Linked DNA regions of Homo sapiens: all the other regions are linked to region 1. Evidence: fine-mapped expression QTL. A gene starts in region 1. Each other region holds a variant in brackets. All regions are shown on one strand. Distances are from middle to middle.

Region 1 (4,243 bases):
GTCCCTTGAAAAAAATCAAGGGATTCTTTTCCATGGCTCTGTAGGGTGCTGTTTTCCTGATGTTGGTATTTTTTAGAGAAGTATAACTCCAAAATATGGAAATACTGGAAAAGTGTTCCTGGGCCTGCTCATATTCCTCACTAATGAATTTTTCCGGGTATAAGAGCATCTTTAAGCATGCAGAACATTTTATGGGTATGGACTTAGGATCCTGAGGCTAGGCTGATAGACCAGAATGAGTATGCATGTATAACCTGTTTTTTTGTGGTCAAGGGTTGTGCCAGCAGTGTGCTTGTCCTGTATGCCATCGGAAGCTGGGAACAGTGTGATGCAGCAGAACCAGACAATCAGTCACTTTTAGCATGGATTATTTTAATTGACTTGCTTTTTAGGGCAAGTAGACACAATTAAAGATCATTCTATCTAGTCATTAATCAAATATGTATTGAATGTATATTGTGCATGGAAATGTCTATATGTGGATGCCTTCCAAATTCTTATCTCCAGCCTACACCCCTCCCCGGAACTCCAGTTTCTATCTCCACAGCCTATTCAACTTGAACGTTTAATGGACTTGCCAAAGACTTCATGCCTGACCTTTCCCTCCAGAGTTGCCCTTCCCACAGCCGTCTCCATCTCAGTTAATGTTCACTCTGTCTTTCAAGTGCTCAGAAGAAAATATGCAAAGGTGTCTACCATCTTTCTTTCATACCCCATACCCAATCTATCATAAATCCTACTGATTCTAAATGTACTGTGGAATCCTGCATGGGATTCTGGAACAGAAAAGGGGCATTTGGGGAAAAAAAAAACCCAGCAACAATAAAGTATTGAGTTTAGTTAATAATAACGTTCACCATGGTTCATTAATTGTGACAAGTATACCATACCAACGTAAGATGTTAAAAACAGAGGATTCGGGGTGCAGGGCAAGGGGAACTCTGAACTACCTTTGCACCTTTTCTGTAGATGTAAAACTACTCTAAAAGGAAAAGTTTATTACAAAAAAATAAGCTAAGGAGCAGATTCTCCTGGCCTCTGGCTCACTCAAGCCTGTGGTTGGTTTGCTGGAGCCAACGAGATAGGAAGTCTGCTTTTGCGTGGTGGTGGTCCGGGTGGAGGATGTGGTTGGATCAGCAGCAGCCCACACACATCTTGCCTCTGGCAGGGCATTTGTTGCCTTATCAGTACTTCTACACAATTTAATTATACTAACAAAATTGGTAACCTCAAACCAGCTTAGTCTTTGTATAATACTTTTGTCAGATAATTTATCTCCACAAATTTATAGTTCCACTTCATTACTTTTGCTGAAGAACAAAGCTCTCCAATCTGAAAAATAACAAGCGTTTTGTGTTTTAAAAAAGATTTTGCTGTAATTCATTAATACTACATAAAATGGAAAAATATGTATTTTTATTTCACATGGAATGCATCGATCTGAATTAAAAATAAGGTTTTTTTTTTAAAAGAAGCAGAAGAGCAGCAGAGGCTGGTGTTAGAATGGGGCATAGAGGGGCTAACACAGGCTCCAAATAAGAGGTGACAATTGGCCAGGCCCTGAAAAATTGCAGGGTTTTCAAGACTGCAAAGTCCAGCCTCTGGGCAATCAAAGTTTTATGCCACTTCAGTGAATCTAGGGATGCACTACTGTGAGAGTCGGGCAGGTGGGTTGAAATTCCCCTTTCTTGGTCTGTGCAGAAAACTACGGATGAAGTCCTAGTGTTGCTTAAGGAGAATTTATGAAAAATTTATTCCTGTTTCCTGGATGCCTGTGCCTTTGACCTTTCCCTAGAGCTAGAAATGGTTGGAGACTTTGCAAACATCTTTAAGAACTGAGAAAAATAAAACAAACTTGCTAACTGCTTTCAGAAGATCTTCTATATTGCAGTTGGATATGCTCAAAGCGTAAGATGGGCAAACAGAGGTGGCTGTGGGGTTGCCACACCTGGCATTTTCCCTACTGGGGGAAATTTAATGAGCACTTAAATAATCCTGAGTCTGAAAGGGGCAGAAGGTCCAGGCAGATGATTGCCGAGGACAAATCTAGCTTTGTAAATCCGAGAGTATTGACACAATGATACGAGGGAAAGGTGAAGGTGATATTTCATCCAGTGTTCCCGGTTCATCCTCTCCTTACCTGACCTCTGAAATGGAGCCATTGGCCTTGAAAAGCCTGGTGTCTAAAATTAATATTCTTCCCCATCTGACTAAGAAGGCAACAGCTGAGCAACGTGAGATCAAGAGCCATATTAATTTAAACAGGGGCTGAAAGTGGCATTTGAGAGAGAAGATACTTCCTCTCGTAGTGGACACTTGTCTTTTCAGAAGATTTATACGACTGAGAGTCAAAACTTTTACCAGAGACTTTCATAGTCAGTTTGAATTCTGCAAAATTTCTCTTTATCTTCTGGAATGTATGCTCTAGACTTGGAGTGGCTCAAGCTCTTCGATGTGATCCTATCAATGGTAATTATCTTTGTTTATTGTTATAACCTCTCAAATCTCCTCCCCTTTTTTCTAAGTTACCTTCAATAACAAATTGTACCAAACTTCAGGTAGAGCTTAATGTTTAATATTTCTTTGCAAAATTATTGTATCTTAATCCTAAGCTTTTGTTTTAATACATTAATTTTGTGTGGCTTCCTGATCCAACTTGAGTTTCATCTGCAATTAACCATAGTATTTTAGTCGTAGTTTGCCTTAGAAATAGCCATGCATTTGTTTCCTTATTTTAATAATTTTTTCAGGGCAATTTGAAAGAATGCTAAGAATGATCTGTAATATATCTGTAGAGCTCTGGTTGATAGTATTAATATTTGCATTTTTATTTGTTTGAATGTAAGCTCTTTATGTGGATAAGTATAATTTGTTAGAGCAGTGAATTTTAAACACTTTGGAACTCAAGAGTATCATTTTACTATAGGAACTGACAAAACAAAATATTAAGTTTTCTGATGAGAATCACAATACGGTTTTTAAGCGGAGAAAATGCTCGAAGAGGCGCTTTTCGGAAAATCTCCACCAGGGGGCCTCAGTTGTCAGCCATGCGGAACTAGCACAAATTCAAATGTCTCTCCCTCTCCCTGCCTCTCTATGCAATCAAGTGATGTGTACATATAGACATGCGTATATGTCTCTAGTATCAAAGCGAATTATGTATGCTGCATTACTTCATTTGCGAGGAAAGTATTTTAAGGAGAGTGAAAAGACTCTGAACTTCTCGGTACATAGCTGTTAATGCAGATGCAAGGAAAGGTATCTGGGAGTGCTGTCCACGTGAGAAGACTGTAAGGAAATAAATTTCTTTTCACAAATAAACACCACACATTTTAAGGCATAGGTAGAGAAGAGTTCTGGAAAAGGACTCATTCGGGAGCGATCCCTCTGCAGAGGGAGGCCAGGGGAAGCAGAGAGACCCCTTCTGTGATAAGCCCTTCCCACGGGGCTGCAAAACCTGCGGTTCCAATTAAACCCAAAGATACTTTATAATTTACATCCAAGCTGGCCACTTGATCTACGGCTTGTTTTGTGCAATAAGGAGCATATTTCATCACCAGTGAATCTTGACATTGCTTCTTACTGTTTGCTTTTGTAGTTTTAAAGTGAAAAAATTTTTTTTCCTTTTAAAGTTCCAATGTTGGAAACTCAATATGAATGTTAGTATTTCTTTTCCTGATTTTGGATCCTCTCTCCAGTTTAAACAGAAGGGACTTCCAAATTCTCACTGGTCATTTTCTCAAGAAGTCAAATGCATGAATACGTGATGAGAACTTTTTGTGTTTCCTTTCTTTGCAGTCAAGAGAAAGAAGCACTGAAGAGTCATAATTGTGTCCTGATTTATAAATCGGAGACAGAGGGAGACGAAAACCACACTCCAGAAAGTAGCTTAATCGGACTCACTACTAAGATGTTAAAAGTGAAGAGGCTGGAAGAATTCAACACGTGTTATAACAGCAACCAGCTGGAGAAAATGGCCTTTTTTCAGTGCAGGGAAGAGGTGGAGAAAGTGAAGTGTTTTCTGGAAAAAAATTCTGGGGACCAGGATTCAAGATCTGGACATAATGAGGTAATCATGTTCTAATTTAGTCTCCTAAAAAGTATTCATTCTATCTTATCTTTTCTAATGTCATGGAGCCGCTTGTGAGTACAATTAAGGAAAGTTTATGAATAGGCATCATTCCACTTTGCTTCAGTGAGAATTGTGTGTGTCGACTATACAATTGTGTTTGGTAAATAATTA
Region 2 (4,243 bases), 33 kb before region 1:
CAATGGTGACAACGCTGGTACCTAGCATCCAGGCAGGAAAACCATGACAGAATCGAAGAGTACTTTGAAATAGTTTTATTGGCTCGTAAGACCTTTGCATATAAAAAAAATACCCAAAACACTATGCAGTATTAAATCACAATTACATTTTTTTACCAATTAAAACTACCCAGAATATACATTTTTTAAAGAAAAGAAAATCCTACAGAACTGAATTCTGAAATGACATTATGACTTAAATACTATGACAAAATAGATAATTCCTTATAACATTAATTCATTGCACAAAGCTGCCAGGTATTTTCATAAGCATAACCGCTGCACCGAGTGCAAATGAACACAATTTCAAAGTTACACATTTATTCGAAAGAACTGCGCCTCCACCTATGGAACTCTTAAATTTCTGGCACAAAATGTTGGTCTGTTCTAACTTCCACCAGGCAACCAACTTTGCAATCCACTAACTTTCTTTCTGGCCCTCCCTTAAAAAAGCAACATCCTTCTGCTGTCGTGCCCTGAGGAGTCAGCACCTCCTCTGCTTGAAGAAATCTACCCCCCTCAACTCTTCAGGCAGGTACTCCTGATCCACAGGCTCGCTGTACATGGGGTTGTACTTGTAGCCTTTGCCATAGCCCAAATCCTTCATCAGCCTAGTGGGCGCGTTCCTCAGGTGCAGGGGCACGGGGGGCAGTGGCCCCTGGTGGTTCCTCAGGCAGGCTTTGACGTTGTTGTAGGCGCTGTACACCTCAATGGACTTTGGGGCTCTGGCAAAGTAGACCACACACTGGGCCAGAAGCACCTACCAATGACACAGAGGACACATTTTACTAGCAAGATGCCAAGCTTCTGTTCTGCAGAGCCCCTTCTGATACACAGCTCTAGGTAATTCTGAGAAGATCCCCACATGCTTTTATTATCCCCCTTTTGCGCCTACAGTCTGGATAACCACCTACGACAGACAGAAGAAATTCTCATGAGGTGAAACGAGAGGCAAACCAGGTGAGTGGTTTTCATTTTTTTTTTTAACTGAAGGACTTTTTACTACATTAAATTTTTCTTAAGCCCCCAATATATAAAAGAGATGAATATGAAGCTGCTCTGGGGGCGAACTTGCAGAGGCTTTGCTGTTCAGCTCCTTTAACCTTTCTGCTCCCTGGAACATATGGAGCATGTGCTCTGAACCCCGGAATCCCGAGAACAGTTTGAAACATGACCTCGTTGACACAGAAGGTTTCCCTCTCTAGGAGTCTAAGAGTCTACAATTGGAATTCCAAAGCCAAGCAGCATACTCAGTGGGTCCAATACACCAATGGTGAAGGAGGGACATTTATTCAAATCTACAAAGGGACAGAGCACGAGAGAGAAAAGAAGTGATTTGCAAGAAATGAGCTGATTACTTTACCTCACATTCAGGCATGCCTATAAAATGACAGCCTTGGTAGGCAGCAACCGCTTGTGTTAACGCAGACGGGTCTGCCAGACCTGCCACACACAGAGACAAAGGAGAGTTTCAGTCATGACACACACTGTCCTCCTGGCCTATGTGCAGGCGACCACAGACCACCACTGCTTGTACACTTGGTGACCAAAACAATCCCATGTAGCAAAACAGCCTGACTTAGCTCTAGTCTCTGATCCCATGAACTTATGCAAGAAATATTGAGAGTGGTTACTGTGTGGTGTTAAGAACTGTTTCCTTGTGGATAAAAACTCTGCATCTAGAAAAACATGAGTCTCTGTATAACAAACATAAGAAGTGAAGGCTATGGAGACATTCACCAGGATGGAAACACTAAAAACAAAACATCCCCTAAGACCAAAGAAGAGGAGAGCTTTCCTGATCTTTTTCTTCATATAGTGTCTAGAGTCTTCCATTTCTACCTTGGGAGCTGTCCAAAGAAAACCTTGAACACCTGACTTAAAGCAAATTTAAAAGCAGCTCATCTATTGCAATACTCTGAATAGCCACTCATGTTAGTAAAAACATTCCCGAAGAGGAAACAGAAAATGGTGACTTTATGAACATAAACATTCAAAAGCACATACACCAGGAA[A/C]TAAACGACTGAGCTCAGGCATAAAGTCTTATCTTCTCCTGCCAGTCTCACATAGCCCTGAGACATTCTTCCTGCTACCCCCGCCCACCCCGCCCTGCAAAAAAAAAAAAAAAAAAAGCCACGATGTAACTGTTAGCCATTTCCCCACCCTCATGGACATAGGACTCCGGGACCCTCCCATCACACTCACCTATGTCCTCGCTGGCAAACCTGACAAGCCTCCGTGCCACGTAGAGTGGGTCCTCTCCTCCCTCGAGCATGCGAGCCAGCCAGTAGAGGGAGGCGTTCTGGTCTGAGCCCCGCATGGACTTGTGCAGGGCGGAGATGCAGTTGTAATGCTCCTCACCTGACATCACAAAGAGCACCACTCACACAGAGCTCACAGGAGGGGCGCCCAAGCCATCTTCACCTCCGCCAGCTGACTTCCAGAAAGCCTGAACGAATAAAGGCCCTGAGAAAGCCGAGGAGAGGTTTGGGCAGCTGCCTTAACCGTGCTCTGAGTGGGGTGCACCAGCTGCTGGGGCTTAATCCCAGTCCTATTCAGGGGAAGAGGCTGCTGCAGCAGAAACCTGTGGCTGTCGACATGGAGTGCACGCACACGCACAGAGGCAGGAGGGAGGAAAGGTGGTCCTCCCAGCTGGTGGATTTGCCAGAGACAAGAGTGGAGGGGGACGAGTCTTCTGTTCTGGCTCTATCCCGTGGCCCACCATCTACTGGAGGAAAAGCAACGGTGGGCCTGCTCGGAGCCAGGAGGATGTAGAGCCAAGTGGCAAGGGCAGCTGTTATAGCCCATCTGTTCCTCAGTGTCATTTCCAGCTGCCTTTCTGATATCCGAAGCCTGTGGTCATTTAAACCTCCTTCTGCCAGCCTTGGTGTGGGGACACCTGTGTGGCAGGGTCCCAGAAGGACCGACACGTGGACTAACCAGCTTCCGCCCTGAAGTGGACGGAAGCCCACTCTCTCACCGCCTGGTCTTACTACTCCATTTTTACCCTAGATTCACATGAAATCAGTGAAATGTGCTTTAAAAAAAGGCATATTTAAGGGCAAAAAAATGACAGCTAAACAGTTCTCAGGAACTAAGCAGTGGCACCTGCATACATTTCACTATTCTCTGGCCATCGTCCCTTAGGTAAGTTCAAGGAGGGGGCACCCTCCTCACGAGAAAGCGGAGGATGGTGTTCCCGTGAGTCTCACTCCTCCCAGAGGAGCACCTGGTCTGTGCTCAGCATAAGCCCATGTCCACAATACGACTGGCGCCAGCCACAAACCCTGGCAGCTGAGCTCGCTGGTAAGATGACAGTTGGTCTTCAGGTGGAGAAGAGAGCAAGCGAAGATGCTGGCCTCCCACAGGGGAAAGACCTGCAGGACCCACGGCTCAGCCTGAGTGATTCTGGTTTCTGAGAGCCAGGGCAGATGGATGGGTCAGCCCAGCTACTGGATTTCTGAGAACAAACTGAGTGTCTCCTGTGCAGGGCTCCCCTGGTGAAGTCAGAGTGCTATGGACACTGGCCGAGAGGGTGTCCTGGATGACATCTGCATGGTTCTGGCCCACTCCCTCACCCTGCTGGCCCAGGCACTCAGGCTACGCTCTGCTCCTCTGCAGGGTGGAGGAAGGCGGGGAAGAGGGTAGCAGGTAACAGGCCTGGCTAAACTCACGGGCATGGGGGCTGGAAGAAACTACCCACACCACTTTATGTCAAATTTAAACTCCCCCTACACAGGTTAGTCATCTTTTCCCACTTTGTCAATGCCAGGGGCAATACCACCAGTATAATGGACAAGAGCACAGGCTCTGGGACCAAACAGCCTGGGCTGGACCCCCAAGCTCATGGGCCATGGGCAAGTTCCTGATCCTCACTGTGCCTCAGGTTTCTCATCTGTAAAATGGGAAAAACGAGACCACTTACCTCACAGGGCTGTATTAAATAACACACGCCTGGCACAGAGCAGGCACTGTAAAAAGATTCTTTTGCATCAGTGATAGATACTAGTATTATTCTATGCTACCTTCCATGTTTGCTTTTATTACACACTGCTTTATAACCTGAAATCTGACGACTTCTATAGAACCCCGATGTCAATGCATGGCAGAGAGTTTGCTCTCATTTAGAAATTCCTTCACTCTGATGCAGAAACATCACTGGATCCTACTAGTGGGTAACTATGAACTAGGTGGCATATACAAA
Region 3 (4,243 bases), 71 kb after region 1:
GGCACCCCACTGCCAATGGTGGAAAGCACACAGAAGCCAAGCCGCCTTTCTTTCTCCTCCTATTGATTGCCCCTTCCCTCTTTACCTCTCTCATGTCTCATTATGAAGTTCCTAGAATCGGACTGTATGTAGTCTTAGTTACAACCAATAAAAGACCTAGGCCCAACAACCCTGATCAAGTCCCATATTGGGACTAAGTATCATAAAGTACGTCTTGTGTGGCTTGGTCATTTTCTCATTTCCCTGTTTGCACAGCGTGACAGTAACATAAAATATACAATCTATATAACATCCCATCTATTGCATTCACTAGGGATTGCATAGCTAAATAAATTTAGCCTCCTGAAATAGGTTTCCATGGGCCTCTCTTCCTATAACTTGGCTTCCCTCACTGTCTTGATTTATGTGCCTTGCCTTTCCCATTCACTTTTGAGCAGGAGGAGAGCAGGAGGAAGTGGTTTATAAAATGACAAAGTCAGAGGCTAAAAATCATTAGCAAAACCCTCACTATGAACTGAGTTTGATAATGCATGCTTTCATGGAGCATTTTCATTGAATGTAGATATTCTGCAGATATCCCTACAGGGATTTGATTGGCAACTGGAACTAGGAGCAAACCTATTGTAAGTCAAATGACTCCATATGAGGCTTCATAACATTGATTGAGGACCTGCAGTGGGCAGTTTTAGTTATGGCTTGGATGCAGAGATCATCATAAAGGTGACAGCTGGATGGGTCCTTAAGGAGCTGCTTTTCTGAAAGCTCCTTGGAAGGAAAAGGGCCAAAAATATTGAGTGATTGTCAGTATGTGGGGGGAGATTATAGGTGACTTACAAACAGTCTGTTTTATATTTTTCTGTTTTGCAAAATTTATCCAATGAACATTGTTTAATTTTATCGTCATAAAAAGGCTAACTTATTGAAATGCCCTCAAAACGGTTTCTCTATATCCTGCAAACTTTTTGATGCCACAGTACTCCTTCACAATTGGACAGCTTTATACATGATCCATCAGTGATTTAAGCATGAAACCAAATGGTTCACGTAGCACCCCCTTCTCTATAATGACTTTTACTCACAAACATCTGTTTTAGAGATAGTTTAGAAAAGGGCTTCCAAAGATATTCTGCCCAACCAAATGTACTATTGAATATTGATAAGGAGACATTATGTCATTTCATAATGTGTTTCTGAATTTCTGATCTCATTGGAACCTCTTCTCCACCTGGACAGGTTGGGGAGGGGAGCCTGATCCCACTAAAGGCTGAGGAACGGGATCCTGGGCATTTGGCTTCTGGGATGGTGCCCTCCAGCTTGTAAAGAATTGGGACTGAGGGTTCTTAACTCTGAAAACTTTTTTTCTCTTTTATAAATGGCCTTGACTTTAAATCAAATCTCTTACTTTCCCAAGACCTCTGTTTTTCTACCCCAGTAAACATTAGGTGCACTTGTAAGGCATTCTGTGAACACTGAGTGGCTGCACTACACCCCATTTTCTCCCCCTGCACCCCAAGACTGTCAGGTCAGCAGGCTAAGGTCTTACCAGGGCCTAGCTCCAAGGGAACACTTAGTCAGGGGTTTTAGGCATTGAGACCAAACTCAGCAAAACCTTGGAACTGCTGAGACTGAAGAACGACTGGAGAGAAAAGCCCTCCTCTGCCGTGCGACTTTCCCATAGGCGTTGAGCAAAGGGAAGCTCTGGAGGCCGGAACGTTCACGTGACAGTGCATGTTCAGTGTGGCTGTTTGAATGGAGCAGGTCAATTCCCTTGGAACTCATCAATCTTGGGAAAAATATTTCTCCAAGAAGGGGAAATTCATACTGAATAATTTAGAGGGGCAGATGTCAGGCCTGAGCGGGCCTCCACAGCACATTTGGGAAGGACTGAAGCAACCTCCTTTTCTTGCTCCCCTCAAGGCCTCTGCCTGAACTCAGGCATTATGGTGAACTGTGAAGCCGTGCAGAGGACA[G/A]GCTGGATAATGCAGGGTTGGCAGGATACCCGCAACCTCATCCACCACATAATTAAAGGAGAAAGTACCCACACGGACAAGCCCGCCCCGAAGTGAAAGGCCTGATATGTTTTTTCTGAGCATCGTTGTATTTTTAGTTGTGGTTCAAGGACAATTTGAGTGAATGATGGTTGTTTTCATTGCTAATGTGTCTCTTTCTCCTGGCAGCCTGAGAATATCCTGTGTGTGAATCGGGATGCTAAGCAAATAAAAATTATTGATTTTGGATTGGCCAGAAGGTATGTCTATTTGGACATAGGTGTACGAATGGAGCTGGGGGACATGATGGTTGCCCTTCCTTTGCAAACATATATCTGATCTGCTCTTTGGTTTCATGATCTCATTTATAATTAATTTAACAAAAATTATGTTTGGCCTTAACTTGCTAAATTTGAGACTTGAGTGTTTAGAAGTTTCTATAATGCATGCAGTAAAAAGTATAAAAAATTAAAACCTAATACAGTGAAGTTTATTAAATTAGAAGCCATTAATTTAGCATTTGCAAGAGTTTGTCCCCTCTTTCATATTTGATCCATCTGTACAGAGAAGATTTACTTTAAAAATATTAACAACGTAAGCAAGTTTGCAAAGGGTTCTGGCACATAAAAGATTCTTCAGGGAACAAAGAGTTTACGTGGACACATTAACAATTCAGCACATTAACGACACATATAAAATGGATGTTGTAAATTATTGCAGTACTGTGTTTATTCATTTTACAGGCTTATTCACATCATCCCCATGTCAATGACTATATCAGTTTTCCTCTTGTCATCTTCTGTAATTCAGATGTTCTCATTATTCACAGCAGCTTCTCCAACAACTGGTTCAGCTTTTAAGGTTTCCTAGTATGAATTTTGACTTTTAAATTTTCTGGGGCCTCTTTACAAGTTTTTGAGCCTCTTGCTTGATTGTTTGATTTCCTTCAATGTTTGTTTGTCTGAAGTTTGCTGTATGGCTGAAGTCATTTTGTCTCATAGACTACATCATTTCAGTGTTCACGATTTTTGATCGACACGTCCATCCTTCCACTTTGTCTCTTAAATTGCAGATACAAACCCAGAGAGAAGCTGAAGGTGAACTTTGGAACCCCAGAATTTCTCGCCCCTGAAGTTGTGAACTATGATTTTGTTTCATTTCCCACTGACATGTGGAGTGTGGGGGTCATCGCCTATATGCTGTGAGTAGCTCTCCTCTGTCTCTGACCCTTCTCCAACTCCATGCATATTTTCTGAGGTTTTGCCGTTTTAAATAAAAGCCCCAATTGGGGTATTTAAAAAATAAATAACACTGTCCCATCCTCAGTTGCCTTCTAGGTTTTGTTGACTCCTGTGGGTGAAAGGAGTGAATTCTTTCCCTGCACATCATTTGGAAAAGTAAATGTGTGTCCTCTTCATTAATCACTTTAACTCCTAGGACACAACCTAAAAGCCAAAAATTAATTTAAAAAGCTCACATGGCCTGGCGCGGTGGCTCAAGCCTGTAATCCCAGCACTTTGGGAGGCTGAGGTGGGCGGATCACGAGGTCAAGAGATTGAGACCATCCTGGCCAACATGGTGAAACCCCATCTCTACTAAAAATACAAAAATCAGCCGTGCGTGGTGGCATGCACCTGTAATCCCAGCTACTCGGGAGGCTGCAGGAGAATTGCTTCCAGGAGGTGGAGGTTGCAGTGAAACGAGATCACGCCACTGCACTCCAGCCTGGTGACACAGCGAGACTCCGTCTCAAAAAAAAAAAAAAAAAACTGATCTCCTAAATGACTCAGGCTAGCCTCACCCCTCAGAGGTGACATGCCTAGCGTTTGCCATCTGAGCATGTAGTAGCACTTTGCAAGCTGAAAAGTGCTTTAAAAAGGAAGCTGATATTCATATTCATATTCTGTTATTGCTGCAGTTGTTCAGTTAGGAGTTGGGTGGGGGCGGCAAGCATTTTCTTGATTACAATAATATGTTATAAAATTATGCTTCAGGATTAGGTTATTTTCCTTCTCTCACCTTTAAATGGCACAACCAGAAAAGCAATCTGTATGGAAAGGGGTTGAGGCTGTTTAAAAAATACTCACTCTGGACCCCGTGTCCTCCAGACTTAGCGGTTTGTCGCCTTTCCTGGGTGACAATGATGCTGAGACGCTGAACAACATCCTGGCCTGCAGGTGGGACTTAGAGGATGAAGAATTTCAGGACATCTCGGAGGAGGCCAAGGAGTTCATCTCTAAGCTTCTGATTAAGGA

The links.
Region 2: its variant is fine-mapped to the expression of MYLK4 in lung (GTEx, PIP above 0.99).
Region 3: its variant is fine-mapped to the expression of MYLK4 in tibial nerve (GTEx, PIP above 0.99). The same link has a PIP of 0.9 or more in T cells, adrenal gland, aorta, atrial appendage, blood mononuclear cells and breast.

The regions. Positions count from the first base shown.
Region 1 is chr6:2,748,962-2,753,204 of GRCh38, reverse strand. MYLK4 (myosin light chain kinase family member 4) reads left to right here and starts at 2,283. Exons shown (of 13, transcript NM_001012418.5): 1 at 2,283-2,469; 2 at 3,799-4,069. The coding sequence starts at 3,911. RefSeq lists a silencer at 416-710.
Region 2 is chr6:2,781,563-2,785,805 of GRCh38, reverse strand. It overlaps WRNIP1 (WRN helicase interacting protein 1), which reads right to left. Exons shown (of 7, transcript NM_020135.3): 5 at 2,245-2,400; 6 at 1,403-1,482; 7 at 1-799. The coding sequence ends at 524. Among named protein-coding and RNA genes, the nearest start is that of WRNIP1, 18 kb to the right of the region's middle. The variant A/C (reference allele first, on the strand shown) is at 2,055.
Region 3 is chr6:2,678,226-2,682,468 of GRCh38, reverse strand. MYLK4 (myosin light chain kinase family member 4) reads left to right here. Exons shown (of 13, transcript NM_001012418.5): 8 at 2,178-2,248; 9 at 3,061-3,189; 10 at 4,097-4,243. Among named protein-coding and RNA genes, the nearest start is that of LINC01600, 46 kb to the right of the region's middle. The variant G/A (reference allele first, on the strand shown) is at 1,971.